Homo sapiens: one gene and its partner. The protein of the gene in region 1 interacts with the protein of each later gene in a biochemical or structural test. Each region holds a gene or a part of one and is shown in the gene's direction. Other genes may lie near its edges.

Region 1 (8,630 bases):
CCTGCCAGTCAGAATTCTCTGGGCAGGGCCTCTGCAGAAGCTTAGGTAGAGTCCCACCCTGCTTCGTTATATTGTTATAAATCTTCAGCAATGTTATATTGTAGCATTTGCTACTTTATATTGCAACTTAACTGTTTATGTTTCTCCCACCTGTCTGTGCTGCTTCTGTATGGCAGTGACTCATAAAGGCAGTAGTAATCTGCGGGGCTAAAAACACTATCTTTCTAGGAATTGTGAGTTTCATGTAATTCCTGCTAGGTCTCGAACAGACTAGGCATGAGGATCTCCTAGGCTTTCAGGTGGCTTCTACTAGGTCTTTAATTGGGGACTTACTATGTTAAAATTTAGAATCACAAAGGTTTAAAGGCAGAAAAGAGCACTGGAGGGAAAATTTCTGACTGAAGGGCTTTCACCAACTCATTTTAGTTCTTATATCCTGAGTTTGCTCTTACACTTGGGGTTCTCTGTTAACTGTCACTGACAAACCATTTTTCTTAGTATTCAAATCTATGTACTTAGTTACTTGTAGAAGCTAAAAAGAAGTAGATGCTAAAACATGGACACACTATTGTTAAATCTGTTCTATAGGCTTCACCTAAAATAGCAGATTAGGGAAATATTTAGTGCTGAAAAGTTTACAATTCTGAAAATGTGATCTTCAGGGGGGTACAGAAGATCTATGTAGACCAATCTGTTCAAGTTTACATTATTTTTAAGCGCAGTTTTTTTCCTTCTTAAGGTTTTAATCTTCATTAGAACCCCTATAAAAATCAGTATTTTAAAATATAACTTCAAAAGTAGCTACCTGGCGGACTTAAAATAATTTTTGTTCTTCAATGGCCAGTAGCACACAAACTATTAGATTTTGCTGATTTGAACTTGAATGTTCCAGGGCTTTCTACAGAGTAGTGATAATGTTTAAATAATGCACTAAATGGTACCTTGTAAAGCTTAATTATATGCATGGAATAACTTCACGGGGAGAAGAAATTTGACTCTGAATTTATCTAGATAACAATTTTACTCACTCTGCATTTTTGTTTTCTCTCTTCAGAGGTTCATTCTCCTTTAGGATGATATCCCTGATCACTGTGAGTGGAAATATAAAATTCTACTCACAGGAGAAAGATTCAAAATGTTGATCTCTGGACATTTTGAATTTTTCTCTTCCATCTCCTCCTTTGTTTGTTTGTTTTTAACAGAAACCTGTCACGGGGTACCTAATCAGTTGTGTTTTTGTTTTTGAAAATGTATCTTCTGGCTGGGCGCAGTGGTGGCTCATGCCTGTAATCCCAGCACTTTGGGAGGCTAAGGCGGGTGGTCAGGAGTTGGAGACCAGCCTGGCAAAAATGGTGAAACCCCGTCTCTACTAAAAATACAAAAAAATTAGCCAGGCGTGGTGGCAGGCCCCTGTAATCCCAGCTACCTGGTGAGGCTGAGGCAGGAGAATCGCTTGAACCCAGGAGGCGGAGGTTGCAGTGAGTCGAGATTGCACCATTGCACTCCATCCTGGGCGACAGAGCGAGACTGTGTCTCAAAAAAAAAAAAAAAAGTGTCTTCCATGGAATTAATGTTGCATAGCTTAACTCTCTCTCTGTGCATATGAAGAAACTGAAGCACAGAGAGTTTCAATAATTTGCTCAGAGTTATAAATGGCAGAACCAAGAATAGAGCCCAGATGTCTAGAATAAAGATTCAGTACTCATTTCCACCAAAAATTAACAGAAGTGACCGCATCTAATTTAAATTATTGATCAAAAGTGACACATTTAAAAATTGAAAATTGGGTTGAAGCATTTTGTGGTGTGTAAATTTACTTTCCTAGTCCAGGAAAGATAAAGGGCTTATTCTGAGGGGTGATCCTATTAGAATCAAATAAATCTTTGCCTTGCAGTGAATCAACTAATTGTGTACTAGGCTTATCTGAAAATCTGGTAAATTCTGTATTTTTTAAGGTTTAAGAATACAGTTGGCCCTCCATATCTGTGGGTTCTGCACCCTTGGATTCAACCAGTCACAGATCTAAAATATTTGGAAAAATAAAAAAAAATAAAAATAACAATACAACAACAAAAATAATATGAATAAAAAATAAAATATAATTTTACATAGCATTTACACTGTATTAGGTATTTTAAGTAGTCTAGAGATGATTTCAGGTATGCAGGAGGATGTGTGTAGGTTATATGCAAATACTACACTACACTATTTTGTGTCAGGGACTTGAGCATCAGTAGACTTTGTTATCTGTAGGGGCCCTGGGACCAATCCCTTATGGATACTGAGGGATGACTGTATCTGAAAAAGTGGGACACTGTATTGTGTGTCTTTGCTTCTTTTACCCAGTAGTTTGAGTTGAAGACCCTTTAAGGTAGCATATGAAATAGCATTTCCATTTTGTTCTGAAAGAACATGTAGTCTTAGGAAGCCCAGTTTTCTAACACCCAGGTGTTAGCCATGGAGTACTCCAGGTTTTGTTTTGTTTGTTTGTTTTGAGGGCAGAGATGGGATGGAGAGGATAAACAAAGGTCTCCTTCTTACCTCTTGAATTTCACTTTCCCCTTTGGGGTTATCTCCATTTGATTATTGGTGCTATCACCATGCTAACATCCTCTGGCCCAAGTGCATACATAACTCCTTTCCCTTCATTTCACCTTTGAACAACTAAGAAAGCCTACAGCTTATTAAGGTCTTTGTCAAAATGTAGAACTGGAAAACAACCATGGGATAAATAGAAAAAAATAAGAAGCATAATGACAGTATAGGTTATAAAGTGATTATTGCACTCTTGTATTCAAGGGCCCACTCTATTCCACATTACTTTGAAGATAGCTACTACAAAGATGTGGAACAACTTCAGGATATTTTGCTGGAATTTCTAATTCCTAGTTTTTGACCTGTCCACAGATGAAGGGCTTCTTTTCACATTCCATTACATAGAGGCTTCTTCTCAAACACATTAATGATCATGACTAAGAAATTCAGATACCCAGCCTGCAGCCACTGCTGTGCCTTTGTTTGTTTGGTTCTAGTTTTCTTAGAGACACACCTTTTTTCCAGGAGATTGCTGGTGAATGATCTCACTCTTCAGATGAGAAACATTGTGTAGCAGCATCAGTACAACCTCTGCAGTAGCAGTAATGTAATTATACCTTCTTATACTAGTGGTAATAGACATAAAATATGAGTTTATGCATATAATAAGAGGGTATTAGAAGTTTTGCTCCCTCACCATTCCAGTACATCTCTTAGAAATAGGTAAATATTTGTAGAGAATATTGGTAGTTCTTTATAAGGTTTAATATTAAGTGCAGGGTTTTTAAAATCTAGAATTATGATATACCTTTAATTACCATGCTTCATGGCCTTTAAAGTAAGTCACATGTACAAGACAGGCAGATATAAATAGCTTGGTATACTCTTTTGGAAAGGATTCGAATCATTAAAACACTTTTTTAGATGCTGAAGAACATTAGAGGAAACCAATTGCTTTTTTTTTTTTTTTTTTTTTTTGAGACGGAGTTTCACTCTTGTTGCCCAGGCTAGAGTGCAATGGCGCGATCTTGGTTCGTCGCAACCTCCACCTCCCAGGTTCTCCTGCCTCAGCCTCCCAAGTAGGTAGGATTACAGGCATGCGCCACCACGCCTGGCTAGCCAATTGCTTTTTAATCAGATTTTAGTGGAGCTTATTGGAGACATCCTTCTATTTTGAAATATTTTCTATTTCTTTAATGAACATTTGTAACTATCTCTTTGGCTTATATTGTTTGTGAAATGAAAATGTTCAAAGGTAATAAGCCTTGCCGACTTTCTGTCTCAAAATATGTTACATATTGCTTTACAGCTTCTGCTGATACTGTAAACTGCGAAAAATGACTGGATGTTTTGTTAAACTGTGCAAGTGTTCAGGTTTCAAGGTGCTGTTTGCAGTGATTTTTTTTTTTTTTCTGGTGACTAACCTATAAATCTAGTTTCAACTGCCTGTAGACTTGACTGCCTTAAGCATAAAGGGGGTATAAAAAGAAACTTGCTACCTCAGCAGGTTGAAAATAATTTTCTCCTTTCATACAGCAGCATTTGCTAAATCAACTAAAATTGCATAGTAACATTTTAAGAACCATAAAAATATGACTATATCAACTTTTTTGGCTTATGTTTTCTCCTTTTGACAAAAGAATATTGGCATTTTGACTTATCATGTTTCAGTTAAGTGCCATCAGTCTAGAAATTCATTCTTTCTGAAAGGTCTAGGATATAGAAGTAGCCGAAGAACAGTATTGCCAGATAAATTTTGGAAGAAGAATACTGAATGCCCAGAAATTTTCATGTAAAAATTTGAGAAACACTTGTGAAGTCATAGCACAGCAAAGAAAAGCAAACAAGATGGGGCAAAAATGTATGGTAATAATGTAAAGTATTAAGAAGGGTGTGAAATCAAAGACACTGATAGCAGAAAAGAAACAGGTTGGTGATGGACAAAAGGAGGAAAGAACTGCATAGACAGAGAGCCTATATGTACCATAGCACTGGAACTCCAATAGGATTCACATCTCTATTGGATGGATGTGAGTGTGTGTATGTACTTTTCACATGTAGTACAATTTTATGGCCTTAAAAGTAGAGACAAATAGCAGTATAGTGCTCTTGAATTATAATATCTTTACAATAATAAGTAAGGCATATACAGAGAAATATGTAACTCTATACAATAATATGTGCACTGAAATACATTTAGTAAATATTTATACCTCCTGTACACAAAGCACTGTGTTGCTGAGCTATGATGTACAAGACAGGCAGAATTTAAACATGATATACACTGTTATTTTACTTGCAAGATTTTGTTGAAACACATCTGAGAGCAGTTAACCCAGACTTGGGAAGGTTGGAAGCCTTTCCAGTACTGATGATGTATAAGCAAGGTTTTTGTATATGTCTTCTTTAAATATCATGTCTTGTGCTCTTTGGCTAAGGAAAAAACAAGGCACTGTATATGTTTTCTTTAAATATTGTGTCTTCTGATATTTGGCTAAGGAAAAAACAAGGCACATTCATCAATGCACTCATTCAACAAATAATTCGTTTTTGTTGTTGTTGTTGGTTTGTTTGCTTTTTTTTTTTTTTTTTGAGACGGAGTCTCGCTCTGTCACCCAGGCTGGAGTGCAGTGGCGGGATCTCGGCTCACTGCAAGCTCCGCCTCCCGGGTTCACGCCATTCTCCTGCCTCAGCCTCCCAAGTAGCTGGGACTACAGGCGCCCGCCACTACGCCCGGCTAATTTTTTGTATTTTTAGTAGAGACGGGGTTTCACCGTTTTAGCCGGGATGGTCTCGATCTCCTGACCTCGTGATCCGCCCGCCTCGGCCTCCCAAAGTGCTGGGATTACAGGCGTGAGCCACCGCGCCCGGCCCTGTTTGCTTTTTGAGACAGAGTCTCACTCTGTTGCCCAGGCTGGAGTGCAGTGGCATGATCTTGGCTCACTGTAACCTCCACCTCCCAGGTTCAAGAGATTCTTCTGCCTCAGCCTCCTGAGTAGCTGGGATTACAGGTGCCCACCACCACACCCAGCTAATTTTTGTATTCTTAGTTGATATGGTTTGGTTCTGCGTCCTCACCCAGATCTCATCTTGTAGCTCCCATAATCCCCACATGTTGTGGGAAGGACCTGGTGGGAGATGATTGAATTATGGGGATGGGTCTTTCCCATGCTGTTCTCGTGATAGTGAATGGGTCTCACAAGATCTGATGGTTTTAAAAATGGGAGGTGCCCTGCACAAGCTCTCTTTTTGCCTGCTGCCATTCACATAAGATGTGGCTTGTCCCTCTTTGCCATCTGCCATGATTGTGAGGCCTCCCCAGCCATGTGGAACTGTTAAGTCCAATAAATGTCTTTCTTTTGTAAATTGCCCGGTCTCAGGTATGTCTTTATCAGCAGCATGAAAAAGGACTATTAGAGACAGGGTTTCACCATGTTGGCCAGGCTGGTCTTGAACTCCTGACCTCAAGTGATCTACCTGTCCCGGCCTCCCAGAGTCCTGGGATTACAGATGTGAGCCACAGTGTCCAGCCTCAACAAATAATTCTTAAACAGCATATTGTGGCAGGCACTTTCTTAGTATAGTCAGATATAGTCTTATAGAAAAAAAACCCATTAATTACATATTCAAACATACTGCATCTATAAAGAATACTAGAGAGGAGAAGAGACATCATTCCAAATGCATGTACTAAGGGGGAATTAGCCTTTTCATGGTGGTCAGAGAATAGCAGAATTACTAAAGGGGAGTTCGTGTTTTCATGGTGGTCAGAGAATGCTATCCTGAGATCTGGAGAATGAGTGGTAACTGACTAAGTGAGGGGAGCACAGCATCTGCAAAAGTCATAGGGCACTAGGGAGCATGGTGAATACAAACATCTGAAGGACCTGGGTGGCTAGAGGGCAAGACAGAGGGACAGTGTAGTGAGATGGAATTAGGAGCTACCTAGGGACAGGTCACATAGCTTGGACCTTGTTGGCCATGTTAGGATTTATTTTTATTTTGAAGGCAATAGGAATCAGTTGAATAGTTTTAATCATGATGTGAGGGTTATGGTGGGAATAACATCATGGTTTTGAAGTATCCTTGGACTGAAGAAAATGGAGCTGGGCAGGACTATGAAATAGATGGTGATGGTTGAGATAGAGAGCAGCAGATCGACTTGACAGATATTTGGAAGGTAAATGGACAGGACTTTTTGACAGATTGGACATGAATGTGACACAGGAGTTGTTAAAGGCTTGATTTCTAGGTTTTGGACTTGTATCCTCAAATCAATTACAATTCAGTTAGGGACTGTTAGAAGACGGTCGCATTTTTGGGGGTTGGGTCATGAGTTAAGTTGGTCATTACTTGAGTGTGAGGTCCCTTTAAGTCATCTAAAATAAGATGTTAGGCATTAGGAAATACCAATCTTGCACTCAGAAGAGAAGACTGGGCTAGAGATAAATTTGGAGTCATTCCAGTATAGGTGGTGATTGAAATGGTGCATGGATAAGATCATCTAAGGCTGCAGCTGTCCGGTATGGTGGACATTAGACAAATATGGCTACTGATCACTTGAAATATGTCTAGTCTAAATTCAGATGTGCTATAAATGTAAAATACGCACTGAATTTGGAAGACAGTACTAAAAATGAGTGTAAGGATCTCAGTAATTTTTATATTGATCATACTTTAAAATATATTTTGTTAAAATAATTATTAAATTAATTTCACCTGTTTTTACTTTTTAAAATATGGCTACAAGACAATTTAAAATTACATATGTGGACATTATATTTGTTGGACAGTACTGATGTAAGAACCAAGCTTTGAGTAAGAGGCTAGGTTCAAGTACTGAGAAATTTTAGCATTTTTAGAGGAGAATTAGCCTTTAAGGACCTGCTAGTTAGGGGAAAAAGCTTTAGAATGCATTATAAAGTCATTGAGTTTTCTAAGAACAGAAAATGGACATATCTTTTGGAGTTCTTTGATAAGACTATTTGATATGGTCACTGTTAGTTTATTGACTTGCTGATATTGGAGACTCAGAGCACCTTTTAAAACACTCTTTATAAATTTAGATATCTGAAAGTCTTTTAAAAAATTCCCCACAATCTTTCCCCAAATTCCTCTAAATATATAAAATACAAATAAAATTTAGCTGCAGCTTTTCAGAAGGCAGTCTGTCATGGATATTACATGAAGATGTTAAGAAAACAAAATTTTATTTTATTAAATTTCTAAGTGGGACCATGAAGAGTTTAAAAATTAATAAAGGTGGATTTTGTAAAATACCTAATGTGAAATAATAAATGTAAGTATTGATGGAAAAACTTGCTAAATAAATTAAGCCAGTATTTTATAATGAATTTGGAATTGACTCAGTTCAAGCTTTGTTTTGAGAGAGAAATAGGGACATATGTTAAGTTTAGGTGTCCATAACATTGATAGTTTGATTGATGCCTTATGACTTTGTAAGCTTCTGTAAGGGAAAGATCAAGTCTTCATATTTTTGTAGTATTCCAAGCATTTAGCACGATGTAAGGTGCACAGTAGACACTTAAATACTTGTGGAATGAATGTTACTCTCATCTTAGTTGGTCTTGGTATCATTCATCATTTTGCTTTTGTGTCCTCAAGGGACATGAAACTTCTTCAAGCTTTTTGTAGAGTAGAAAATTGTTATTTCTGAAATGAATGTTGTGAAATTTAAACAAAATGTTATGAAAAATGTGATCTCCTCAGAAATGCAGGAAATAGCCTGTTATAGAAAGCTTTCTCTATTTGTTGATATTTTCTACCTTGTTTATAGAATTCAACTGTTAAGAGATATAACTAGTGATAATGAAGATAATACACTTAAAGGTATATGTTTGTATTTAGTTAGAAGAAAAGTTTGAAATATGTTGATAACATTTCTTTGCCCGAGACAACCAGCTGTCTCTTTAGGGTCTTTGAAATGTTCTGTTTCAAGGTAATATTAGTAGAAACTGTTTTCAGAACTATTTCTTTCACATTTGATGTTTTATGAGATAGCAACAAATTCTTTTCTTTTTGATATTTCAGAATTGCTTACAGCTTAGCACTTCAGTGATATGGTGTGGCTGTGT
Region 2 (7,407 bases), on another chromosome or scaffold:
ATAGAAAAGCTTTTAAAACTAAACAAATCAAACAACTTGAGTATAATGGAATTCAGACTTTGATTTGCCTAACATAACCACCATATTTGCAAGGACAGCTCTCTATCTTCTGGTGTTTATTCTTAAAAACTTAAAAGTTAGATTTAGCGATCACCAGAGCCACTACTTTTATGCTTAGGTATTTGTTTGACTTAGAAAAAATTGGTCACGTGTACCACTTTATAGTGCCCTGCAGGTGTTAAGATATGAAGGCACTTTGACTTACACCTCATAAAATCTTTACAAAGTATTTTCTAAATGAATAATGATGAAATAAAGTCTTTATTCTAGGTGCATCTGCCCCACATAATTTGTTTTCTTTGGACTAGAAGTTTTGATGTGTTGAGAATGGTAATGAATTAACTCCATTTTAAATGTAGAATGCGTATCACTCCAATATGAATGCCCTAATGAATCCTAAGATTTGTAGGTTTTGTGTACTAGTATGAAAATTACTAAAGATGGAAAAATCACATGTTGGAGACATAAGATACAAACCTTTTTGTTTTCTGAAAATACAACCTCTGATTTCTGATTCCTTGTTGTAATATGGTGTAATTATACTAGATTGTAATTTTGTTGTTAGATTATACTTTTTTAAGTTCAGTGTTTGAGGACAGACTTTCATTTGGTTAGTAGTATTATGGCAGCTAGCAGCTAAATATGATAAAGTGTACAATCAAAAGGATATTTTTAATGAAGATATTAGTGGTCTAACATGTCATTTCAGATACATAGCTGAAATGTAGTAAAATCAGTTTTACTACAAATAAACTTGCATAAGGTTTATAAATTTATAAGTTTATAAATCAACTTGGGTAAAGTGTAAATAAACTTGCACTCGTGGTTTCTCTGAAGTCTCCTGAGCTAACTTTGCATAAAGGTGTTATTCTGTACTTCGAGGAAGTGAATTATTGGGGTCAACCACATTTTTTTTCCTTCCTACAGTCTGATTGCCCTTTTTAGTTTTTAGGATCTTTGTGGCTGCATCATTTTTCCCCTTTTGAACTGTGCATTTTCTAACCCCATACTTAAATATTCTCATAACCTCCAAATTATTAATTAGATGCAACATTCAGTGGTATATTACTGGAGTTTCTGATTTCTGCCCACTATAGGAATGTGCTTCCTGAGAAGATTGGGATCGTGATTATAATAATAGTTAACAGGGGATGAGTACTTTCTAGGTGCCAGGCACTGTTCTCTCTGATACTTTATTTGATGTATTGTTGTTATTCCCATTCTTTAAATGATGCACAGAGAGGTTAGGTAAGTGACTTACTACCAAGTGTCAGGGCCATTAAGGGTCAGGATTCTGAATTCCTGAAATGATGAAATTTAGCTTGAAGAAATTGGTTTGATTTCCTGCTTAGTTTTCAATTTCATGGTGGTCTTTGATTGTATTTTGTGCTATAACACTGCCTTAGCATCCTATAACTATAGTTACAGTGTTATATTACCATTTTTTATTGTTAATACAAAGCCATCATGAAATAATTCAGTTTATGTGCCAGCTTTTTTTGTTACTAATTCTTGAACCTTGGCGCTGTACTTCTTCATGTGGATGCCTGTTAAGGAAAGATAAAGTTAGAAATCTTTGACCCTGCTAGGAAATTTGTCTTTGTTATATTGGGAGCTCATAAAACTGAAGTATTCAAAAGTTAGAATACATACACACAAGAAAAATTAGTAACTAATTTAATAATGTTTTCTTTGCACATGTCTCTGTTGTCTTTTGGTCAGAGTGAAGCTAAATGTGTTTTTCACATAATTTGTAGCCTATATGAAGTCCTGGACATGTGGTATGGTTGGAAGGACTGTTGATGAGGTTTATTGTCTCTCTTTATTCTTTTATGTTGTTAGTGTCCCCATACAACGGGGCGGGGGGAGTGGGGACAAAATGATAACTTGCTTTATATATGAAGCCTTGGGTTTGAATCATACTGTTATCACATTTCCTATGTCCCTATCCTGTCTCCTGCAGGTTTTCTTTCTTGGTTTTCTTTTTTGGTTTTCTTTCTTCCTTTCTTCCTTTCTTTTCCTTTCTTTCCTTTCTTCCTTTTTTCTTTCCTTTTCTTTTTTCCTTTCTTTCCTTCATTTCTCTCCTTTGCTCCTTTAGTTTGTTTCTTTGTTTCTTTGGTTTGTTTCTTTGTTTCTTTGGTTTGTTTCTTTGTTTCTTTAGTTTGTTTCTTTGTTTCTTTGTTTCTTTCAACAGGTCTCACTGTCGCCCAGGTTGGAGTGCAGTGGTGGGATCTCAGCTCACTGCAACCTCCACCTCTCGGGTTCAAGCCAGTCTCATGCTTCAGCCTTCCGGGTAGCTGAGATTACAGGCATGTGCCACCATTCCTGGCTATTTTTTGCATTTTTAGTAGAGATGAGGTTTCGCCATGTTGGCCAGGCTGATCTCAAGTTATCTGCCTGCCTCAGCCCTCCAAAGTGCTGGAATTACAGGCATGAGACACCGGGTCCAGCTTCCAGCAGGTTTTCTTTAGGAGGGATATTTTACAATGCTGTAAGTTTTTCCTAACGAGAATTATCATAGCACTACATGTTCTGTCTTCAGTAAGTGATACAAGCTTACTGATGATGTTGTAGTTATGTTCATTGGTGGTCGGGTGTACATTGAAACTTTAACACATAATAGCCTCTCCTGTGAGCAGTGGTTCCTGTTGGTAAGATACTTTACTAAGGGAAGGAATGTGAGGTGTCGCTGGGGAGAGTTTACCCAAATAAGGATGGACTTTCTGTCTTTGTTTCATCAGTCCTGGTAATAGAATGTTTGAATAGATAGCTCTAGGCATTACATACTTTCATAAATATGATTATTGTAATTACCTCTTTGGCCCAGTTGCTAGTAAATTAGGGACCCCTTAATGATTTATTTCCTGTTTATTCACCCTGATGAAGAACTTGTATCTCTTTTAAACTGTACTTTATCGCCTTTCTCAAATTCCAAGATTCTCATCACATTTTTTTTCTTCCCAAACTCTAAATAACCTTTTAATATTAAGTATCTTTGTGGAAACATTGTTTTCTTTTTCTATCCCAATTTTTAAAGCTTTTTTAAAAAAAAGAGTGCTTTTGTTGGGATGTACATTTTCCAAATGCAAAAACATTTATGATTCTGTGTCTCTTATAAAATATGACACTCTCTACTTTTCTCTCATTTATTTAGTGCCACCTATGTGTGTAATTTCATTACCCACAGCAGTCTTAGGAGGCTGGTCGAGTTCCTTATTTGCAGATGAGGAATCTGAGGTCCAGAGATCACTTCTTGGTGAGAGTCTCACAGCTATTAAGTATTAGAGCCAAGATTTTGAACGTAGGTCTGATTCACAGCAAAACCGTTAACCACTAAGTACACTGACTCCAGTAAGAGCCCTAGTCCTCACCCAATACACTTTAATTCCCCTGTGCATTCATTCAAATTCATTGAATTTGCTGCCTTTGGAAACCTCTCAGGAACCTCCTCAACCTCTCTTCTCTACAGACATCAGCTTTGCCTGATAGGTAGGGATCATAGCAAAACACAGTTTTCCAAGGTGGTGATAGGTGGAGTGATAGTGCTCTGGAGATGGCCAAAGAAGGAAGGTATGAGTGTATCTGTGGGTGGGTGAGTGGTGGATAAGGGGAAGGACAGAGCCAAAAGCGACGGCTATTGGAAAAACTATGATGAGAAACAGGAAGATGGAACCTTGTTGGAATTAGTGAAAGACCTTAGAATTCACAGGAGGTATTTGTCCTTCACGCGAGTGTAGACCAAACGTAACCTATGAGTTTCTTTTATTCCACTTATTAAAGCAGCAACCAAAGGTATTATATACCTTCTGTATTCACTTAAAATGACTGATTTTGAAAAAGTCATGCAAACATCCATTTACAGATAAGCCTCATTAACTCAAAGGCAGTGGCCCTGTTGGGCTCTGATGATTACTCAAACCATTTCTGACACTCTGACACTACATCCGGAAATCATCCGGAAATGCATTCAGAGCCTGCAAAAGCTTTTTTTTTTTTTTTTTTTTTTTTTGAATAGCTACAGCACTTGCAGATCTTCCTCCTTTGAGAGAATATTTGATTTTAGGAAATAAGCAAATGTAGATAAGTATGATTCAACTGGGCAATAACTTTTAGGCAAAGAGAAAAAAACAAAATATAGCAATGTAGTAATAAGGCTGATATTATAGTGCTTTTATGATGAGTCTGAAAACAGTCTCCAACATTTGTAAATGTTTTAAATCGGGTCTGTCTACTACAGTAGCCCTTAAGCCATATGTAGCTATTGAGCACTTGACATGTTGCAAGAGTGAATTGGAGACTGATTTTAATTTTATTTAATTTTAATGTAAGTAGTCGCACATGACCCGTGGCTACTATGGTAGATGGCATAGTTTTAGACAAGGGCAGTAGTCTTGGGTAGATACTTGATTTACTTAGAACATTTCTTTACCTAGCTGTAACAAGGTTCTAATAGCTGATTAAAGGACAACATTTTTAGCATGTAATATACAGTAAGGAACTAATGTTAATTACTGCCAAGATGTATAAACATTATGAAACCTTAAACAAGGATGAACACAGAAGCAGTGGCCCTTCTTTGTAAATAAGGGGTCAGTTACTTCCTAATAGGTGTCTTAGTTTTAGTTAATAATCTAATAGCACCCCCAAAAAGCAAACTGTTAATTTGTTATTAGCCATCCTGTAAAGACAAGGGAGAAATCGGGGCCAGGAGAGTCCTCTTTCCCATTCTCCATAATTTTTACGACCTATAGAAATAAGAGCCTAAGAGTGACCAGTTCCTGCAACCTAACTCAAAATTAGGCCTCTCTGTTGAAGTAATAGTGAGGCAAACAATCCCTTGAAGCACTGGGGCATGCACCCTTATGAAATCTAATAATTCTAAAATATCATTGGCAGTATTAAGCTAGAGTTCTCAAAATATGCTGTAGAAAATATTGGTCATTTAAATATAGCTGAGTAAAAATAAGCAAGATCAAAATGATAAGAAAATGTTGATTTCTCCCCTTTTGAACCAGTAACTAACTATAAGGGTATATACCCATGCTTAACTTAAAAATAATTATTTAGCCACCTTGGGTATAGCACAACATATGGATGCCATTATAGTCCACCTTGATCTTACAAGGAAGCTTTCTTTTAGCGTAGCTTTACTTTTATTTAAGCATTATTGAAGAAGCTTGGTATCTCTGTTTAAGTTGCTTCTGTATCAGTGTTTTCCAGGGCCCTGTCTCAGCTTCCATAGTTTTTCTTAAGAGCAGCTAATTAATGCTTCACTCCATATGCTTTAATTTGATATTTTGGGAAGTTTCATTTTTTAAAATAATCTTTTTATATCATAGGCCTTTGAAGACATATTTGTTTACAAAGACATCTGCATTGAACCATTTGTTTTTAAAAACATGTATCGGGCATGTTCTATATACCAGAAACTATGCCATTTACTGAGGACACCGAAGTTAGAGAATGGTCTTAATCCGAACTAGTTATTGTCTCACTATCCAATATGGATATCAAACATTCAGCGTCATGAGGATTTACTACTGTGTTTTCTCCCAAGAGTTTTATAATTTTAGCTCTTATATTTAGGTCTTTGATGCATATTCATTGATTTTTTTTTGTATGCAGTATGAGGTAAAGGTTGAAACGTATTCTTTTTGCATGTGGGTGTCCACTTGTCCCAGCTTCATTTTTTGAAAACACTATACTTTCCCCATTGAATTGTCTTGGCTTCTTTGTTGACAAAGGATTTATTATTTCTGCCACAACCCAGCTGTTTCTCACTGTCTAAACCTTTATGCCTGCTGCCCCGTAGGCTTAGTGGAATGCCTCTCCATCCTCCACTCTCTTTTGTTTAGCTAGTACTTCCTTATCCTTTAAGGGGTCAGTAGGAACCTCACCTTCTTCAGTATGTTTTCCTTTGTCTTATCAACCTACCACCATCACCCACACACATACCTTTTCCCTAAGGCTGGGATAGGAACCTCTTAGGCAATGATCTATTTGATAAGTACTCACTGAGTTCATACTAGACACTCTGCAGTATATCCGTAAATGAAGTAAAACCTGACACCACCCTCAGAAAACTTACTGTTAGTGAGAAAATGGGCTATAATAATAGAGTGGGGTAAGTTTATTGTAGGGATAAGCATAGGATGCTATGAGAATGCAGAGGACAGGAATTTAACCTAGACTTCTCAGTTCTCCCGTTGAAGTTGACATCTGAACTGAAATCTGGAAGACCAGTAAGAGATAGCTATGTAAAAAGAGGGGAAGGACAATAGGAAAGAAGGAATGGAGAGAGGCCCAGAAACTACAGAGTATGGCACAAGTAGTTTAGCATTGTTGGGTCACAAATTCTAAGGATATGAAAGATAAAGTTGAAGAAGTGGTGGGGCTGGGGAGGACAGCTCCTGTAGAGCCTTTTACAGCGGGAGAAGGAGTTTGGCTATGGTCCTGCAGGCAGGGAGAAACCACTGAAGGGGAGAAACATACAGAATAAATTTGAGTAAGAAGCTTAAATCTCCCCAAGCCCTTTTAAAATAAATTAAGATATAAAGCCTTTGGGTTTCTTTATGCTTTGTCCTATTCTTCTAATTGTCCAAAACAAAACAAAAACCTTCCTTTTCTGTACCTATTAAAAGGTTAATTTTATAAAGTTACAGACAGCATGCTGATTAAAGAATTCTTGATAATTAGCTATTTTGTCTGTCTTTGTGTAGATTACTAACAATTGTGTCATCAGATTTAAAAGATCTAAACCTCTGGACTTTATATATTTTTTCTACAAGTACTGTGAGATTGAGAACTTAATTCAACTCTAGTAACTGGACTTTTTAGTGTTGTTTGCAGCATATGATTGTTAAAGAAAGTTTAGTATATTTGTGTGTGCGTATATATATATATATAGATAGATAGATAGATTTGAGGTTATATTTAATCATTGACTATTGGTATTCTAAGATTTTAAGGAGAGAAAGGTAGGTTACAATATATGGCTGATATATGGTTCTGGAACAATTTTCTTAGTTTTCAGTAATTCTACCTAAAATGTACGTCCAGCTTTGCACTCACTACCACATTGTAATTTCCAGTATACTTGTCTATTTTTCGAGATGTTGAAATCTGTGGAGAATTTTTTCTCATGTTTAGTGTTTTAGCTATGTTTATCTCTAGGGTATAGCACATACAAGGTGGCAATATAGATGTGCTTAATGAATAAAATGATCTTCAAAAACTGACCTTCATTTGAAGTTCTATTTTATTCATAAACACATAAAACGTTTGGTATCACTGTAAAATTTAACTAAAAACAAAAACTATCTTTAAGCTCACAAGTTAATTTAACGT

Evidence for each region.
Region 2: the proteins of TDRD3 (region 1) and FMR1 form a complex in vitro, tested with the Homo sapiens proteins (one study listed by BioGRID).

Annotation. Positions count from the first base shown.
Region 1 is NC_000013.11:60,399,202-60,407,831, forward strand, and holds part of TDRD3 (tudor domain-containing protein 3), read left to right. Parts: intron 1-8,630. UniProt on the Homo sapiens protein: Scaffolding protein that specifically recognizes and binds dimethylarginine-containing proteins. Plays a role in the regulation of translation of target mRNAs by binding Arg/Gly-rich motifs (GAR) in dimethylarginine-containing proteins.
Region 2 is NC_000023.11:147,914,512-147,921,918, forward strand, and holds part of FMR1 (fragile X messenger ribonucleoprotein 1), read left to right. Parts: intron 1-7,407.